3 linked regions of the Homo sapiens genome follow. The protein of the gene in region 3 interacts with the protein of the main gene of each other region in a pairwise test. Each region holds a gene or a part of one and is shown on either strand. Other genes may lie near its edges.

Evidence for each region. The genes of interacting proteins can lie anywhere in the genome.
Region 1: the proteins of ZNF688 (region 3) and LMO2 interact in binary tests that used the Homo sapiens proteins (3 or more experiments, as listed by UniProt).
Region 2: the proteins of ZNF688 (region 3) and DEF6 interact in binary tests that used the Homo sapiens proteins (3 or more experiments, as listed by UniProt).

The regions. Positions count from the first base shown.
Region 1 is NC_000011.10:33,858,076-33,861,076, reverse strand, and holds the end of LMO2 (rhombotin-2), read left to right. Parts: intron 1-1,501; coding exon 1,502-1,721; 3' UTR 1,722-2,501; downstream 2,502-3,001. UniProt on the Homo sapiens protein: Acts with TAL1/SCL to regulate red blood cell development. Also acts with LDB1 to maintain erythroid precursors in an immature state.
Region 2 is NC_000006.12:35,293,420-35,300,817, reverse strand, and holds the start of DEF6 (differentially expressed in FDCP 6 homolog), read right to left. Parts: upstream 3,001-7,398; 5' UTR 2,962-3,000; coding exon 2,866-2,961; intron 1-2,865. Other genes in the region: ZNF76 (zinc finger protein 76), read right to left, coding at 5,907-6,038, 6,249-6,362, 6,903-7,067.
Region 3 is NC_000016.10:30,569,116-30,575,809, forward strand, and holds ZNF688 (zinc finger protein 688), read right to left. Parts: upstream 2,600-6,694; 5' UTR 2,515-2,599; coding exon 2,319-2,514; intron 2,313-2,318; exon of another isoform or gene 2,110-2,312; intron 2,009-2,109; coding exon 1,895-2,008; intron 1,322-1,894; coding exon 801-1,321; 3' UTR 611-800; downstream 1-610. UniProt on the Homo sapiens protein: May be involved in transcriptional regulation.

The DNA.
Region 1 (3,001 bases), on a different chromosome or scaffold from region 3:
TAACAGCTGAGTGAGGTGGAGCCTATGATGGCTGCCATTTCACTGAGGCTCAGAGAATCAGAGGTCTCTCCAGGGTCACTCAGGGCTGGTCCGGGACATTGAAGCTGGGTCTTCTCTGCTTCCGGTACTTGTGTTACTGCACTTTTGCTGTTGATTCTCAAATGTCAGCCTGCAACCAGTCCCCCGGAAGTGTTCATTAACGCACAGACTGCTGGGCCTTCTCCCCAGGGTGTCTCAGTTGGGTAGGGAAGGAGGAGGGCTGAGAATTTGTTTTTTTGTTTGTTTGTTTAGTTTTTGCTTTTCTTTTGAGTCAAGGTATGGCTCTGTGGCCCAGGCTGGAGTGCAGTGGCATGATCTCGGCTCACTGCAACCTCCACCTCCCGGGCTAAAGCCATCCTCCCACCTCAGCCTCCCAAGTATTAATAGCTGAGACTAGAGGCATGCACCACCGCACCCGGCTAATTTTTGTATTTTTTGTAAAGACACAGTTTCACCATGTTGCCCAGGGTGGTCTCGAACTTGTGAGCTCAAGTGATTTGCCTGCCTCAGCCTCCCAAAGTGTTGGGATTACAGGTGTGAGCCACTGCGCCCAGCCTGAGAATTTGTATTTCTGTCAGGTTCCCAGGCAGTGCTGATGTCGCTGGTCCCAGGACCAACACTTTGAGAACCACTGCACTGAGCCCTGCCATGTTCTGTCTCCCACCTTGACACTGAATACTGCCTGAAATAAGTGACTGATCAACTGAGGCTTGGGAGAGTCTTGATTTAAATGTCAGAAAAGAAGTTTCCCTTTTGATTCATGCCAGTGGGCAGCGAGGGCCATGAATTAAGATCCTCCCTTCATGGTGGAGAGATGCTGTTGGTCCTCCATATCTCAGAGGCACGATTAGCTGCACCGCGTGTTTTCTGTGGAACTCCCTGTCTCCCAGCAGCTGGGGCCCCAGCGAATAATCAGGGGGAGATGTGCTTTGCAGCTTATGGAGGTATTCAAGGCCAGCTCTCCCCATGGGTAGAATCAGTGGCTGTTGACATGATAGAGTTTGGGAGCCTCAGAAGAATGCCCGTTTTATTGCATTCCTGGTCAGTACCCTCTCAAAGGGGCCCCTAGGGTCTCTCTCCAGCTGCTCTTCTGAAATGAGGGTTCCCCTGGGAGGGGACAGGTAATACTTGCCTAACTCCTTATGATAGATCACATCAGCTGAGAGCCTTGCCCACAGAGGAGGAGCCAGGGGGCAGCCTAGGGGAATGATGAGCGGTTGCTGCAGACAAGGAGAGGGCTCAGAAAAGGGAGGAGTTATGCCAGATCCAAATGCCAGTTTCATCTGAGTTCCCTCTGCCTGCTGGTGAAGACTGCACTAGCCGGCCCTCCTTCTGGAGCCGACCTTCCCTGGCTTCCTGACATCCTGAAAGTTCGGCCTCCTTTCTAGGGCTCATCCCCGAGCCCTGTCTTCCAGGATTGTCCCTTTCACTGTCTTCTTAGCTTTTCTTTCTTTTGCCCCAGGCTTTTTGGGCAAGACGGTCTCTGCGCATCCTGTGACAAGCGGATTCGTGCCTATGAGATGACAATGCGGGTGAAAGACAAAGTGTATCACCTGGAATGTTTCAAATGCGCCGCCTGTCAGAAGCATTTCTGTGTAGGTGACAGATACCTCCTCATCAACTCTGACATAGTGTGCGAACAGGACATCTACGAGTGGACTAAGATCAATGGGATGATATAGGCCCGAGTCCCCGGGCATCTTTGGGGAGGTGTTCACTGAAGACGCCGTCTCCATGGCATCTTCGTCTTCACTCTTAGGCACTTTGGGGGTTTGAGGGTGGGGTAAGGGATTTCTTAGGGGATGGTAGACCTTTATTGGGTATCAAGACATAGCATCCAAGTGGCATAATTCAGGGGCTGACACTTCAAGGTGACAGAAGGACCAGCCCTTGAGGGAGAACTTATGGCCACAGCCCATCCATAGTAACTGACATGATTAGCAGAAGAAAGGAACATTTAGGGGCAAGCAGGCGCTGTGCTATCATGATGGAATTTCATATCTACAGATAGAGAGTTGTTGTGTACAGACTTGTTGTGACTTTGACGCTTGCGAACTAGAGATGTGCAATTGATTTCTTTTCTTCCTGGCTTTTTAACTCCCCTGTTTCAATCACTGTCCTCCACACAAGGGAAGGACAGAAAGGAGAGTGGCCATTCTTTTTTTCTTGGCCCCCTTCCCAAGGCCTTAAGCTTTGGACCCAAGGAAAACTGCATGGAGACGCATTTCGGTTGAGAATGGAAACCACAACTTTTAACCAAACAATTATTTAAAGCAATGCTGATGAATCACTGTTTTTAGACACCTTCATTTTGAGGGGAGGAGTTCCACAGATTGTTTCTATACAAATATAAATCTTAAAAAGTTGTTCAACTATTTTATTATCCTAGATTATATCAAAGTATTTGTCGTGTGTAGAAAAAAAAACAGCTCTGCAGGCTTAATAAAAATGACAGACTGAAATACAGTGTTGTTTATTTGATTACGACTTATAATTTGGGATGGCGGGGAAATGCTCTGCTTTTTCTTTTCTAAAGGAGAAGCAAATAAGCAATTTACTCTTAGGTCAAATAAAAACTTCTGTGTATTGCAAGGGTTTGTATGAGGCAGGCACATTTCTATATTACTGGCAATTATGTAACAGGTCATCATGTAGCTCAGAGGAATGTAGAATAATTAAATTGTTATTGTACAATATGCATTTCACTTCAGCATTGTATGGAGTGAGTGGAAGGCAAGATCATTGCCTTTGGGAAACTTGTAACCTAGAAAGGACACAAATACATAAAGCAGATTCCCTTTGGGAGAGAAGGTAATTACCTAGTTTGAAATGTGGCAAAGATGCTGAGCTTGACACTTCGATTTTCCAAGACGGGTGTCTCAGGGTGTTTTATGACAAGTGGTTAAGAGGACCTTTACTTTGCGGATTTAAAGCAGGCACCTTGGTTTGTGTGTTTGCCTTC
Region 2 (7,398 bases), on a different chromosome or scaffold from region 3:
GCTCCCCTCTCTATAGCCCTCTGTCAGGATGGCTACCTTCCAAAGGTTTTTAGAGGCGGTTCTGGGAACCTTGCAAGAACTCACAGCCCTCAACTCCTGGGAAGTTTTGTGTTCAACCTAAATCCATCCTGGGCAGGAGTGCCATTCCTATTGGTTTACTTTCTCTGTTCTCAACCCAACTGGATGAAGCCATTGTACTTTCTACAAGAATTCAAAGAGAGAAAGAAGTATCTGGTTTTTCCCTCAAGCCTTCTCTTTTCCAGGAGAAACAACCCTACTCCTTGGGCTTTTCTCAGAGGACGTGCTGTTCTTCCTCCTACCCTCTGGCCTCATCGTGGGTTTGCCCAGGACAGCCACTGGGAGCCCGTCTACCAACACATTAGGGGAGAAGTGGCAAATGTCACGCACCGACACATCTTGCCCTGGGCTAGTGCAGGTCTCTTGCCAGGTTCCAACCCAGGACCCTAACGCTAGGGATGGTTTTAGTAACCAGCCCAGTGAGGTGGCTCAAGACTATAATTCCAGCTACTCAGGAGGCAGAAGCCAGAGGATCACTTGAGGCCAGAAGTCTGAAACCAGCCGGGGCAACATAATGAGACTCAGGCTCTAAAAAATAAAAAATAAAAAAATTAGCCAGGCGTGGTGGCATGTGCCTGTAGTCCCAGCTACTCAGGAGGCTGAAGTAGGAAGATCGCTTGAACCCAGGAGTTTGAGGCTGTCGTGAGCTATGACTGCACCACTGCACTCCAGCATGAGTGATAGAACAAGATCTCATCTCTAAAACAACAACAAAAAACCAGATTGACTCCAAGGTCTTTTCCCTCATCCCCAAGTCTTTTCTGGGGAGAGGTGGGCCCTGCTTGTATAACTCTCTCGTCTGCTTCCTCCTTTGCCTTTTGACCACTTCTCTATTACTCCTTTGCTTTGCTGGAATCCCCGCCCCCCAACACTATCACTACTTCCTCCTCTTCCAATATTCACTATTATGGGCTTGAAAGGAGCCCCGCCATTTCCGCCCCACCCCCACTTGGCCCCTGAGACTCCCACTGTTAGCCCAGGTTTCCAGAGTTGACAAGTTTTCTGTCAAGTAGGAGGGAACTCTATAATTGATCCTGTGTGACCAGAGATGTTGCTGGCAGTAGGTTCAATATGAGCTGTGATGAGGTACAGACAGTGGACAGTTCAAGCATGCAAGCTCTCCATGGAGTATTTCCCTAGAAATACGCAACCTGTGGGGATGAGGGAGTGGGTAGTGGCCCTTTTAGAGGGCAAGACAGAGGCTCAAGCTAGGAGGCTTTACTGGCTGATGGCACCAGGAAAAGGGGAGCCACTTAAAGGCTGTACTTTCCATGTGAAGGGCAGAGAGAGCCTGGAGAGGTCTCAGTGGCCACAGGTAATACAGAAGTGGAAAATGTTACCCTGGAAGCAAAAAGCCACGGGGGCTGGTATTGTCTGGCAAGATATTAAAGGGACAGGGTGGGAGGTAGGGGTGGGACACAGAGTTTGCAGAAATGGATTTTGGATGATCGACTTTTTTCCATTTATACTGAGGACCCAACCAAATGACATGATCTGCAATACAAGAGATTTAAATAGGATGTAAGGAAGAATCTGCCTGTTAGGAGGTTCTCCCTAGGTGACAAAAGATAGTAGTGGGCTCTCCTTCCTGGGGGAGTGAAATCATCTATTAGATGCTCACAAATCCAGGTAAGGAATTTAACATAGGACCAGTTTGGGATATTCAAGTTCCTCACATCCAAGTTCAGTAAAGTAGGGGGTTGGAACGGTGGTGGGGCACAATAACTGTTCTGTCCCATTCATCTCTCAGGTATCCAGCACCCTCTACCTCGGTCATTAAGAATGGAGGTTTCCTTGAGACCACACGTCTCCTTTGGAGGATGGGGCAGGGAGACACCAGTTTAGTGCCTAGCCACATGCCAGGCACAGAGCCTCACGAGGGGCACTCAAGTACTTGCAGAGTGAACGAAGGCACCCCTATGGCAGGTCCTAGAGAGCTGAGGCCTACCTTGCTCCTTTCCCCCAGTGTTCGCTGATTCTAGTGGCTGAGGGCCTTGCTTCCTCCCCACTAACTAGGGTAGGGAAGGCAGCACTACTGGAGGACTAGAGGAAGAGAGAGAAAAACTCCTTGGCCTCCCAGAAATTGTCTAGGCCAGATGATTGACTTCAGGACAATCATTGATTGGGATTTTCCTGGGCTTAGATTCTCCCCCTTCCCTACCTGAGGTCTCAAGGCCTAAGGTAAGTTTCCCAACCTGATATGTGTGGTGGATAGGGGGGTGAGCTGCGTAGCAGTATAATAGGGTCCTCAGTCCTCACCCACTCCGCAGCTCTGTCCCACCTGGCGGGCAGGGTTAGACAGGCCAGACAGGTTTGGGACTGGGGGCGGCCCCTTTATGCCTCTCTCAGCTCCAGAGGAAATGACTGCCAAGCACTGGCTAACTGTTTCTCTTGAAAGTCAGGAGGAAGCAGCAAGAAAGAGCACACTGCGTGCCCAAGCATGACTCTGTGGAGGTGTGTGTGCTCATCACACAGAGTCTGGGATGTGGCCTGGCTCCTGGCCCTCAGAACCCCATAATGGCCCTCAGAACCTCCTGGCCTCCAGTTGTGGGGCCCAGTTCTGCGCAAGGTTTCTGCACACACTTCACTAGGTCTCTGGAGGGTGGGCAGCGGCATCTACCAGGCTACGTTGGCCCAGTTACCCAGGACCAGCCCCCCGACCCCAGGCCCGGGACGCTGGATGGCTGGGTGCCCCTGGAGTGGCACAGTGTCCACACCTGGCTCCCAGGCGGCAGGGGCTGGTGTGGTGCATCTGCCGTCCTCCCCCGGGTCCCGGGTGCCCCTCACCTTGAGCTGGGACTTGGAGACTTTGCCACTCTTCTCCACGTCCAGCGCGGTAAAGGCGTACCAGATGGACTTGAGCAGTTCCTTGCGCAGGGCCATGGCTGAGGCGCCCGCCCGGCTGGGGGCGGCTCTGACACTAAGATCCGGTTTCAGGAAATGCAAACGGCTGCAGAGACCGCAGAGGTGCCGTGGTGGAGCGAGAGCACCACCTGCCTGCACATTGCGTGAGGCTCTGTGCTGTCGAGAACCCTGCCTGTTGTTCTGGCAGTGCTCAGAGGCTCCACTCCCTGCATGGGAACTGGGGACCAACTCTCCGAGAGCGGGAACCCTCGTTCTGTATCCACGTGGCTCCCGGGGCATGTGAGGCCCTTTTAGAAGCCTCCTCAGACCCGGAGGCTTCTGGAGCCTTCCAGGGCTCCCAGACGCAGCTTGCTGAGGGAAAAAGCAAGCTCATCCTGATATTGGGGTCAGACAGAGTAAAGGTCCAGTCCTAGTTCAACATAGGAGGCCTTGGGTAAGTTACTTAACCTCCTTGAGCAGTTTCCTCATTTGTAAAGCAGGAAAAATGCCTCCGTGTTGTAAGAATGTCTGAGAATGGACGTAAAGCACATAGTAGGCTCTGGGTAGAGCTTTTGGTGCTACTTAACATTACCATGGTGGTGGGACTCCATCCAAGTGGAAGGAAACAAAGGCAACATCACAAAGCTGGAGAAGGAAATGGGCCAGGGCACCTCTCCAGGTCAGGATGTGGCACTTGACTTGCTGGCTCCCTATCCCCTCAGCACTGGCTCTAAACGGTACTCAGAGCACTGCCCACTCTAGCCCCAGTAGCCCTGAAGACACTGGAAACTTCCTGAAACACATGGGGGTGAGCCTTGTGGTGCACCTCAACTTTAAGGGTCCCAGCAGCAGCAGGCTTGGGATTCAGGGCCCTCCATGTCAGTGCTTCCTTTCTTCAGATCCAGTGTCCAAAAGGACTGGGACACGCCCACACCAGGAATGGTGGTCACAGATGTTGAAGACATCTGCTCAGGCCAATTCTAAGACACCTCCCCCTACCCCCTAAGCCAAATAAAAATCCCTCCAAGTAAGGTGCTGGGAATACCTCCTGCCTGGAAGCACGCCCCCGCCCCTCTCTTCCCAAGGAGCTGGTGGCAAGAGTAAATGGGAGCTTTCTAGGCATCCTGGGAGAGGATGCCTGGATCAGAGGAGGGGGTTCCAATCCTAGGAGGCAGGAAGGGGTTGGGGCATATCCATCACAGCAGAGAGAGGAAAAGAGGCACCACCAATCCCTGCAATGTTCCTGTGTAGGCAGAGTCAAACCCAGAGCTTCTTCCCATCAAGTGCCTTCCCCTGTATCCCTTCTTCCCCCTGGAGCTGATCTGGTCTCACCAACTCACTTTTCAGTGGGGTCTGATTGTGGCTTTGAAATCCCACAGCACAGTCCTAGGCACCTAGGTGGGCACCCCCAGAGCTGGGTAATAGAGCCAAGACTTCAGCTCCAGAGGCATCAGACTCTGCTCCTTGAATCTCAGTAACCTTGGCAAAGGTGTCCCCCAGCCTCACTCTAACCTGGGGCTTTGCCCTCTTGGAGAAGCTGACTGTGTGATTTGGGGGTGGCTGGGTTGGAGGGGCTCTGACTACGTTTCACAAGAAAAGGCAGGAAAAGAGTTCCCCCAGCTCAATCACATGAGGCCTGAGATTCAGCCAGAGCCTGGAAGCAGCGGTCACCCTGGTCCTGTTTGGCTACCCTGGAGCCCACCTGCTCAGCTGTGGGCAAGAAGCCACCAGCAGCTCCTCAGGGCTTTATCTTATACTGGGCTTCCTTCCCACCTGTGTCCCTGGCAGGCCAGCCCCACCACTCTGGCACCAAGGCTGAGTGGGGTTTGTGCCAGGGAGACAGGGCTGATAGCCTGATTTGACCAACCCTGCCACCCGGGCCTAGAGCTGAAAGGATGGAGGGACCCAGGTGGAAATTTGGAACTTTTATTAAATACTCATTCATCCATGTGCCACCACCACCCAGAGCAGGAAAAAAATTATCAAAATGGAATTAAAAAAAACAAAACAAATCAAACCCAATCCCCAGCAGTCTATGTACAGGGCCACTCCCTGCCTCTCTGCCATAGAGAGGTTGGGGGGCAGCTGAGGAGTGGTGGGGGCTGGGCACCTTTTCTTCAGCCACAGGCCCCTGAGGAATTAATTGACTGTGGTGTCAGGAAGTCCCTGGTGCCAAGTAGCCAGGCATCTCAGCTGGCCTCCAGGGAGGTGGTTATTGCTGGGAGGGCAGGACAGGGCCTGCTCCACTGCTACTGGGCTGAAGAGCTGTCTGTGGCTCAACCCTACAGGGCCAGTCCCCATAGCAGCCCCAATCTCTACCTGAGAAGGGGAACAGACTGAGGGCCAGAAGGGTGTTCTTTAGGAGGAGAGTGGGCGCCCAGCTGATTTTGAGAGGCGGGTGCCCTGGTGTAGCCTGGCTGTTGTCAGCTCCCGAGGATGATGCACTCCCCTGATTCCAGCTGCCTGGCCCCCTTCTTGAGCAGGGCCCCCATTCCCTTCAGTTAGGCAGTTTTCTTGCTGTCTTCTCACCCCAGAGACCTATGTGGCCACCTTCTATGTGTCAGCCACAGCCTGGGCCCTTGGGGGCAAGAGTGGCCATGCAGATGGCACTTCCTCCAGCATGGTGTGGGACCCAGCCCTCTTGGACTCAGCAGCCACTCTCCGACACTGTTGTCTCCAGGGTCACAGCCCCTTGCTGCATGGCCGCAGTGGCCACATTGATGGCCTCCTCTAAGGTCTGCTGTTCCTCCAGCTGTGGGGAAGGGGGTGCAGAAGGAAGGAGACAGTGAGACCCTCCCTGCTAGATTCCAGTGTTAGTAATATGTGGCCTACTTTTTTTTTTGACTCTCCCCCATCTACCCAGTGCCACACGCTGAGCACTTAGTAGGGCTCCAATAAACATGAAGTTCACGGATGAAGAGTCCTATTAGGCTAGGCATGGCCAGGGGGCCCTGGAATAGCCAGGGTCAGAGAGACCCACTTGCTCACGGAGGAAGGACTGGCTGAAGAGAACCGTGGTGATCATCTACGTCAGCCTCCTTCATTTCCAGATGAAGAAACAGAGACACAAAATGATGAAGGGCTTGGACCACAGGTGGACTGCCATCGGAGTTATCCTGAAGGCCAGAAGAGGCTTCAACATTCTGCCTCAGCCAAGAGCGAGCCTGAGACAGATGCATGGATGCAGGAGGAAAGGGATCTGTCCTCTGAAATGGGCTCTTTTTGAGTCAGATGCCCTTCTCTTCAAGATCCTCATCTAATTCCCCTTTATTCCTTGTTGACTTCTCTGGCCGTGGGATCCCCTTTCCTCCCAGATCTCTACTCACCTGCACTGCAATGTGCGTTCCGTTGGCTGTGGCCAACAGTGCCACCTGTTGATGACGAAGAGATGCTACACTTGAGTCCTCAGCCACCACAGCCCCAGAGGTAATGATTGTGACCTGAAAGACAAAAGGAGGTCTTCCATTCCACCTGCAGTATACTCTCCCTCCCCACAATCCAAATAAACATCCCTCCAATTAAGGTGCTGGGAACAACCCAGAAGAGAATGGATAAAACCGTATGGGTCAGATTAATTAGCCTGAGGCTCAGAGCTAAGTAAGGCTGGGTTTCCTCCCAACTTAGAGCCCAATTTAATTTAGGGATTTTGAATCACAGAAGGACAGAGCTGTAAAAAATTCCAGAGATATTTTAATCCCCTCACTTGAAAATGGACAGAAGTCCATGGAAAAGTGATTTGCCTAAGGTTGCACAACAAATCAGGGTTGAATTGAGATTTAGAAAGTGTCTCTTGACCTCCATTCAACTGCTTTTAAAGGTAAGAGCTGCTCATGGCCCAGGAACTGTGGGGAAGACCCCTTCTTTTGTGGGGAATCTTTGTCCTGGTAAGAAGACTTGACTAGTTTAGGCTGCACTTTAATGCCCGCCCCATGGAAAGGAATGACAAAATAAGAAACCCCAAGCAAACCGCCTGGTCATACGGGCTGCGTCTGGGTGCCATCGGCGCTGACCATGGTGACTGTATGTGTGCCAGATGTGGCCAGGTCGGCATCAGGACTGGGGATGGTGAGGGTGGTGCTGCCGTGCTGGGTGACCATACTGATGGCACTCCCCAGGGCCTGCAGGTCTTCCGGGGACAGGCTGACCTGCCAACAGGAGGGGAAGATGAGCTGGCAGTGTCAGTGGAGGGTTGTCTGAAAGTCCCTAAGGAAGATATACCTGCTCTCCCAGACAAGGTCAGCTTATTAGTTTCATGTCATAGTGGTGGAAGGGATGGGTGACAGGCAAACAAAATGGGTCCAAGGTTGCAAAGAGAGGCCACACTAGAAGAATTCCACTGACTACTTCTATTTATCACCACTTTGCCTCTGGGCCCTGTTGTATCCAGCTCAGGGTCGCCACCTGATTGTGTCCTAACAACTCTAGAAAGCACAGATGTACTTTCTAGCAAGGGTACGGACAAGGGTCAGGTTATAT
Region 3 (6,694 bases):
AAAATAAAAGAAAGAAATGAAGTCTTGCTCTGTTGCCCAGACTGTAGTACAGTGGCACAATCATAGCTCACTGTAGCCTTGAACTCCTGGGCTCAAGCAGTCCTCCCACCTCAGCCTCCCAAGTGGCTGGGACCACAGGCACGATGTGCCACTATGCCTGGTTCATTTTTTTTTTTTTTTTTTGTAGAGATAGGATTTCACTATCTCTAGATAGTGATATCCTAGATATCTAGATATCGCTAGATAGCCTGTTGCTCAGGCTGGTCTGAACTCCTGGACTCAAACGATCCTCCCTCCTTGGTCTCCCAACAGAGGCTGGATTTGTGCCACCTGCATCTATTCTACTCCCATCCACTCCAGTGTCTGGGTCCCCTGCTGATGACAATTAGCCAGGGTTTGACCACGCCCTCCATGTAGGTCCCCTCCCCAGGCCCTGGTCCCCCTCAGCATCTGCATCTGAAATAGATAAGGAGTGGCTAGTTCCTGAGATGATATAAAGGTCTCTGTTGCACCTGATCTTCAGATAACACTTTGAAATGAGTCCAGGGTCTCACTCTCTTCTTTTTTTTTTTTTTTTTTTTTTTTTTTGTTAAACAAAAGACTGGGGAGATGGGTGGCAAGTCTAATCTATTCGAATCTTTACAGGCACTTTTCTTTTTACAAGTTGGAAACTTGAGGGATCCTTGAGGAAAGCCCAGGGCATGAATTTCAGTTCCGGAGTCCCCGACTCAGTGGCCCACCTCAGGGATCCGTCAGTCCTTCGTGCCAAGGTCAGGCTCAACTCCAGCCTGCGGTGCCGCTCAGCCGCACTCCTCGAAGATGTCTGGGTAGTGCCGGAAGAGCACAGGCGGGTCCCGGTCACCTCGGACGGGGGCCCGAGGCACAGCCCGGATCCCAGGCCTCCGGCCCCGCCGCCCCCCGGAGCAGGAGCGGTGGATCCACTGGTGCGCTTCCACTGCGAACTTCCTCTTGAAGCGCATGCCACACTCGGGGCAGGGGAAAGGCCGCTCCCCCGAGTGCATGCGCCTGTGGCTGACCAGCAGTGAGGGGTAGGTGAAGCGGCGGCCGCAGTCCGTGCACACGTGGCGCCGCTGGCCGGCCTGAGCATCCATGCTGGGTATGGGTGCCGGGGGCTGTGCTCCTGTGGTCGGGTCCCAGGCAGCATTTTTGGGTGGCTGTGCCCGTGCCGGGGCCACGCTAATAGCTGGGTCAGGGTTGCGTTCCACCAGCACTTCAGGACTCTCCTTCACAGGAGCCTTTCTAGGCCCTTTGGCTCTTGGGACTTCCTCCGGTTCCTCTTCCTTCCTGTTTGGGACATCTCCTGGGAAACCGGAATTAAGTTACACTTACAAACACTTTTGCACAGACTGTCTCAGGTTATAGAATGCTTTTCACTTAAGGCAGTGAGGGAAGTTCTGTCCAGTGATTAACACACAGGCTTTAGAACAAGGTAAACAGGATTCAGATCTCCTAAAAGTGCCTTATCTGAGCCTTGGTTCCTTATGCATCAAATGGGAATAATAATGGCTTTTGACTTCACAGCGTTACTGGTTTAGCTGAGTAGATGCATGTTAAGCACTTAGGAAGTGCTCAGGAAGCAGGGGCTATTATTTATTTATTTATTTATTTATTTATTTATTTATTTATTTATTTTTGAGACGGAGTCTCACTCTGTCACCCAGGCTGGAGTGCCTGGTTGGACTGGGCTCCCAGTCCTCACAGGACCGCTGTCCCATGTTCTGAAAACTTTGTACCAGGTCTGCCTTCTTTACTCCTCTAGTACCCAACACAGTTGAATTTCTTTAGGGATGCTGGAAGTGGGGGCCTGAAAAGAAACTCTGCTAGACAGGAAGCCCTGGAAAACCAAGTGGGGGGACCCGGGACTATCCCTCACCTCTCCGAGCTCCTCCCAGTCTTTCCCCCTTCTCAGGATCCTGGGCGGCGGGGCTCCAAGCCTCACTCTCCTGTTCCATCCAAGAGATGAGGGCTGGTTTGGGGCCTGGGAATCCTGGGAGAGAACAGGGATCACAGCGCGGGCCTGAGAGGCCATCGTGGGAAGATGGCATTCCCCTCCAGGCTGAGGGCACCCCCTCGGAGCTTATACTCAACCTGGAAGGGGCTGCAGTGCTGCTGCCTGAATGAAATGGATGCGGGTGAAAACACTCCCGAGGGGGTACCTGAAGCCCTGGGAACGGGAGGTGGCTGCTGGTGTTGGTGCAAGAGTGCGGGATTAGGGCTCACAGTCCTCTCGGCCCTTCTACATCATCTCCCCTGTGAACCCGGTGAAGGAGGAGGGGGCTCGGACCCGGGGCTCTCACCGAGCGCGCCCAGGTGGCCGTAGGTCTCCTGCATCACGTCCCGGTACAGAGCCCTCTGCGCGGGCCGCAGACAGCCCCACTCCTCCGGGGAGAAGTACACGGCCACGTCCGCGAAGCTCACAGTCCCGGGCTTCCTGCAACCAGGCCGGGTCTCCCCGGGCCTCGGCGCCAGGAGCGGGGCTGGGGGCGGCGCCATGGGGCCTCGCAGCCCCGATCGGCGGCCGCCAGGTCCCTGGAGCCGCCGCCTCCCCGCTCCCGGCCTCAGCTGTCGTTGTCCACAGGAAGGGCGGCCCCGCCCAGCCGTGGCGTCCGAACGCAGCCGAGGCAACCGAAGTAGCAGGGACTGGCTGCTAGGGATTCGAGGATTCTGATAGGGACAAATATAATTCCTCAGTGTTTATTCACTTCATGGCCGCTTGGACATAGACACCCGGGTTAAGGGACCCGGAAGGTGCCTTCTGAAAATATGGCGACCACCCTTCAATTGTCACAGGCTGCTCTTAAGGGCGCCATTATTTGACCATATCAAATATGGAGCCTTTCTGACTTCTCTGGCCTCATCGTCCCACTTGCCCTTAAATAAAGCCGCTTCGGCTGCTTTTTCTAGTGGGGGAGGCGGGGTGTCTGGGAAGTAGAGGAGAGGCTTCTTGCCTTCAAGAAAGATGTAAGGGCCCGAAGCTTCACTTACCCCTCTGTACCCGCAATACGCAACGGCCGATGATTGGCGACGATCCCGGAAGAAGCTGCGCGGTGATTGGCCTGGGACTGGCGGGGCATTTGAAGGGACCCCGCGGTCCTGAAGCCTCTGTTGACAGACTGGAGCGCAGCGGAGACCTCGGCATCTGCGGTGCTCGGGATTGTGTCCCCTACGGTCTCTTACCGTGCCTCCCGATGGCGGGAGCTGGAATTTGGTCCCCAGACCCCTTGGGAAGACGCGCACACCCTGGCAAACCATGTGTACACCCGCGGTAGAAGCAGGTGCGTGTTTTACAGTAGCTTAGCTGCGGAGTCCACCCAGCCCCTGGCATCCGCAGCTCGGCTCGCTCAGGCTCTAGACCGAAGCTGCAGGCGAAGGAACGTGCTTGGTGAGGATGGAATCGGAATGGGGAAGTTTTAAATTAAATAGTAATTGTTGCTAACATACATGAATTTATTTTTTGTTTGTTTTGAGACAGGGTCTTGCTCTGTGGCCCAGCAGTGCGATCCTAGCTCACTGCAGACTCGACCTCCCGGGCTGAAGCGATCTTCTCACCTCAGCCTCCCGAGTAGCTGGGACCACAGGCGCACACCCAATGCTTGGCTAATTTTTAAATTTTAAAACAGAGACAGGGTCTTGCTATGTTGCCCAGGCTGGTCTGGAACTCCTGGCCTCAAGCAATTCTCCTGCCTCGGCCTCCCAAAGTGCTGTGATTACAGGCATGCGCCACGGTTCCCAGCCATTTCTACTTTTTCTTTGAGAAGGAGTTTTACTCTTGTTGCCCAGGCTGGAGTGCAATGGCGCTATCTCGGCTTGCCCAGGCTGGAGTGCAATGGCGCTATCTAGGCTCACCGCAACCTTCGCCTCCCAGGTTCAAGCGATTCTCCTGCCTCAGCCTCCCAAGTAGCTGGGATTACAGGCATGAGCCACCATGCCCGTCTAATTTTGTATTTTTAGTAGAGACGGGGTTTCTCCATATTAAGTCAGGCTGGTCTCGAACTCCCGACCTCAGGTGATCCTCCCGCCTCAGCCTCCCAAAGTGCTGGGATTACAGGCGTGAGCCACGGCGCCCGGCCCTGCCATTTCTACTTATTTACGTTGTTCCAAATTATCAAAGATAGCATCAACTTTCAAATCCTAATTTTTTTTTTCCTGGGAAACCTTCCTCCTTTAGCCTTCAGTCTCCTCTCTAAACTGGGTTGGGCCTCAGTTCTTCTCATACCGGGTCTCCCCTTCCTGCTGTCCTGGGTTGTATCTTCCGCTTCCTAGATTTAAGGTCTTTATTTTTCAGCCAAGATGGGTCATCCTCATGGCTGGTGGCATTGGACTGTAAATACTAGTTGCCTTCATCCCCACATTTGGAATATACCTGCAATCATACAGGATGCAGAATACTGTTTGCTAAGCGTGGGGCTGGTTGCTGGAGATAACAAGCAAGGCCTACCAGGTCCCTGCTGTCATTCTGGCTCTGGATCTACTTGCTTGGCTCCCCTGCCAGCCCTAGTATATCGAGCCTTCCTTTTTATTCAATAGTGTTTTTTATTGCTGACTTTTCAGTCAAGATTTCTTTGTGTTTTCTGGCCTACCCTTGCTGTTTTTCACCTGAAATGCTTTTTGGCTTTTAGTGTGACTCCTGCTGATCTCATATGCATATGTTATTAATTGATTAATTATTAATTGTTAATAATTAAATATTATTAATATGCTTACATTATTACCTTGAGTTCTGGAACTGCCTCACTGCACTCCATGTGGTGAATACTGTAGAAATTATATAAGGAAAAATATATCCTTAGAAATGAGTATTTTTTAAATTTTGAAAATATTTAATTTAGGCCCAGCCCAGTTGCTCACACCTGTAATCTCAGCACTTTGGGAGGCTGAGGTGGGCAGATTGCTTTAGGCCAGAAGTTAGAAACCAGCATGGGCAACATGCTGAAACTCCATCTCTACTAAAAATACAAAAATTGGCCAGGTCTGGTGGTGCACACCTGTAGTCCCAGCTACTCAGGAGGCTGAGGCACAAGAATTCCTTGAACCCAGGAAGCAGAGGTTGCAGTGAGCAAGATCATGCCACTGCACTTCAACCTGCGTGACAGAGTGAGACCCCGTCTCAAAAAGAAAAAAAAATTGGGCTGGGCACAGTGGCTTGTGCCTGTAATCCCAACACTTTGGGAGGCCAAGGCGGGAGGATCACCTGAGGTCAGGAGTTCGAGACCAGCCTGGCCAACATGGCAAAACCCCGTCTGTACTAAAAATACAAAAATTAGCTGGGTGTGGAGTCGGACGCCTGTAGTCCCAGCTACTCAGGAGGCTGAGGCACAAGAATGGCTTGAACTCAGGAGGCAGAGGTTGCAGTGAGCCAAGATCACACCATTGCACTCCAGCCTGTGTGACAGAGCAAGACTCCATCTAAAAAAAAAAAAAACAAACAAAACAAAAAATATATTGATACACAAAATTTTTACATATTTATGGAGTTCATGTGATATTTTGCTTTTCTTCATACATAGAATGTACAATAATCAAGTCAGGATATTTAAGGTATCAATCACTTTGAGTATTTAACATTTCTATGTGTTGGGAAAATTTCAAGTCCTCTCTTCTAGCTATGGAAATTTACAGTACTTTGTTAACTACAGTCACCCTACTCTGCTATTGAACATTACAAGTTATCCCTTCTTCCTAAGTGTATGTTTGTACCCATTACCCAACTTCTCTTCATCCACCTCTCCCACCCACGTACACCCTTCCAATCTCTGGTATCATTCTACTCTCTACCTCCATGAGATCAACTTTTCTAGCTCCCACATGTAAGTGAGGACATGTGATATTTGCCTTTCTGTGTCTGGCTTATTCACTTAACATAATGACCTCCAGTTCCATCCATGCTGTAAACATGATTTCATTTTTTATGGCTTAAGTCCACTGTGTATATATATCATATTTTCTTTATTCATTTGTCCCCTGATCAACACTTAGGTTGATTCCATATCTTTGCTATTGTAAACACGGCTCTACAGTAAACACGGAGATGCAGGTTATCTTTTTTATATACTGATTTCTTTTCCTTTGGATAAATTCCAGGTAGTGGGATTGCTGGATCACATGGTAGTTCTTTTTTTTTTTTTTTGAGACGGAGTTTTGCTTTTGTTGTCTAGGTTGGAGTGCAATGCCCTGGTCTCGGCTCATTGCAGCCTCTGCCTCCCAGGTTCAAGTGATTTTCCTGCCTCAGCCTCACAAGTAGCTGGGATTACAGGCACCCTCCATCACACCCAGCTAAATTTTGTATTTTTAGTAGAGAAGGGGTTTTGCCATGTTGGCTAGGCTATTGTGAACTTCTGACCTCTGGTGATCGACCAGCCTTGGCCTCCCAAAGTGCTGGGATTACAGGTGTGAGTCACCATGCCCAGCCCACATGGTAGTTCTGTTTTTGTTTTTTTCAGACATCTCCATATTGTTTTCAGTAGTGGCTGTACTAACTTACGTTCCCACCAACAGTGTGTAGGAGTTCCCTTCTCTTTTTTTTTCTTTTTTTTTTTGGAGAAGGAGTTTCACTCTTGTTGCCCAGGCTGGAGTGCAATGGCACAATCTTGGCTCACCACAACTTCTGCCACCAGGGTTCAAGCGATTCTCCTGCCTCAGCCTCCCAAGTAGCTGGGATTACAGGCGCGTGCCA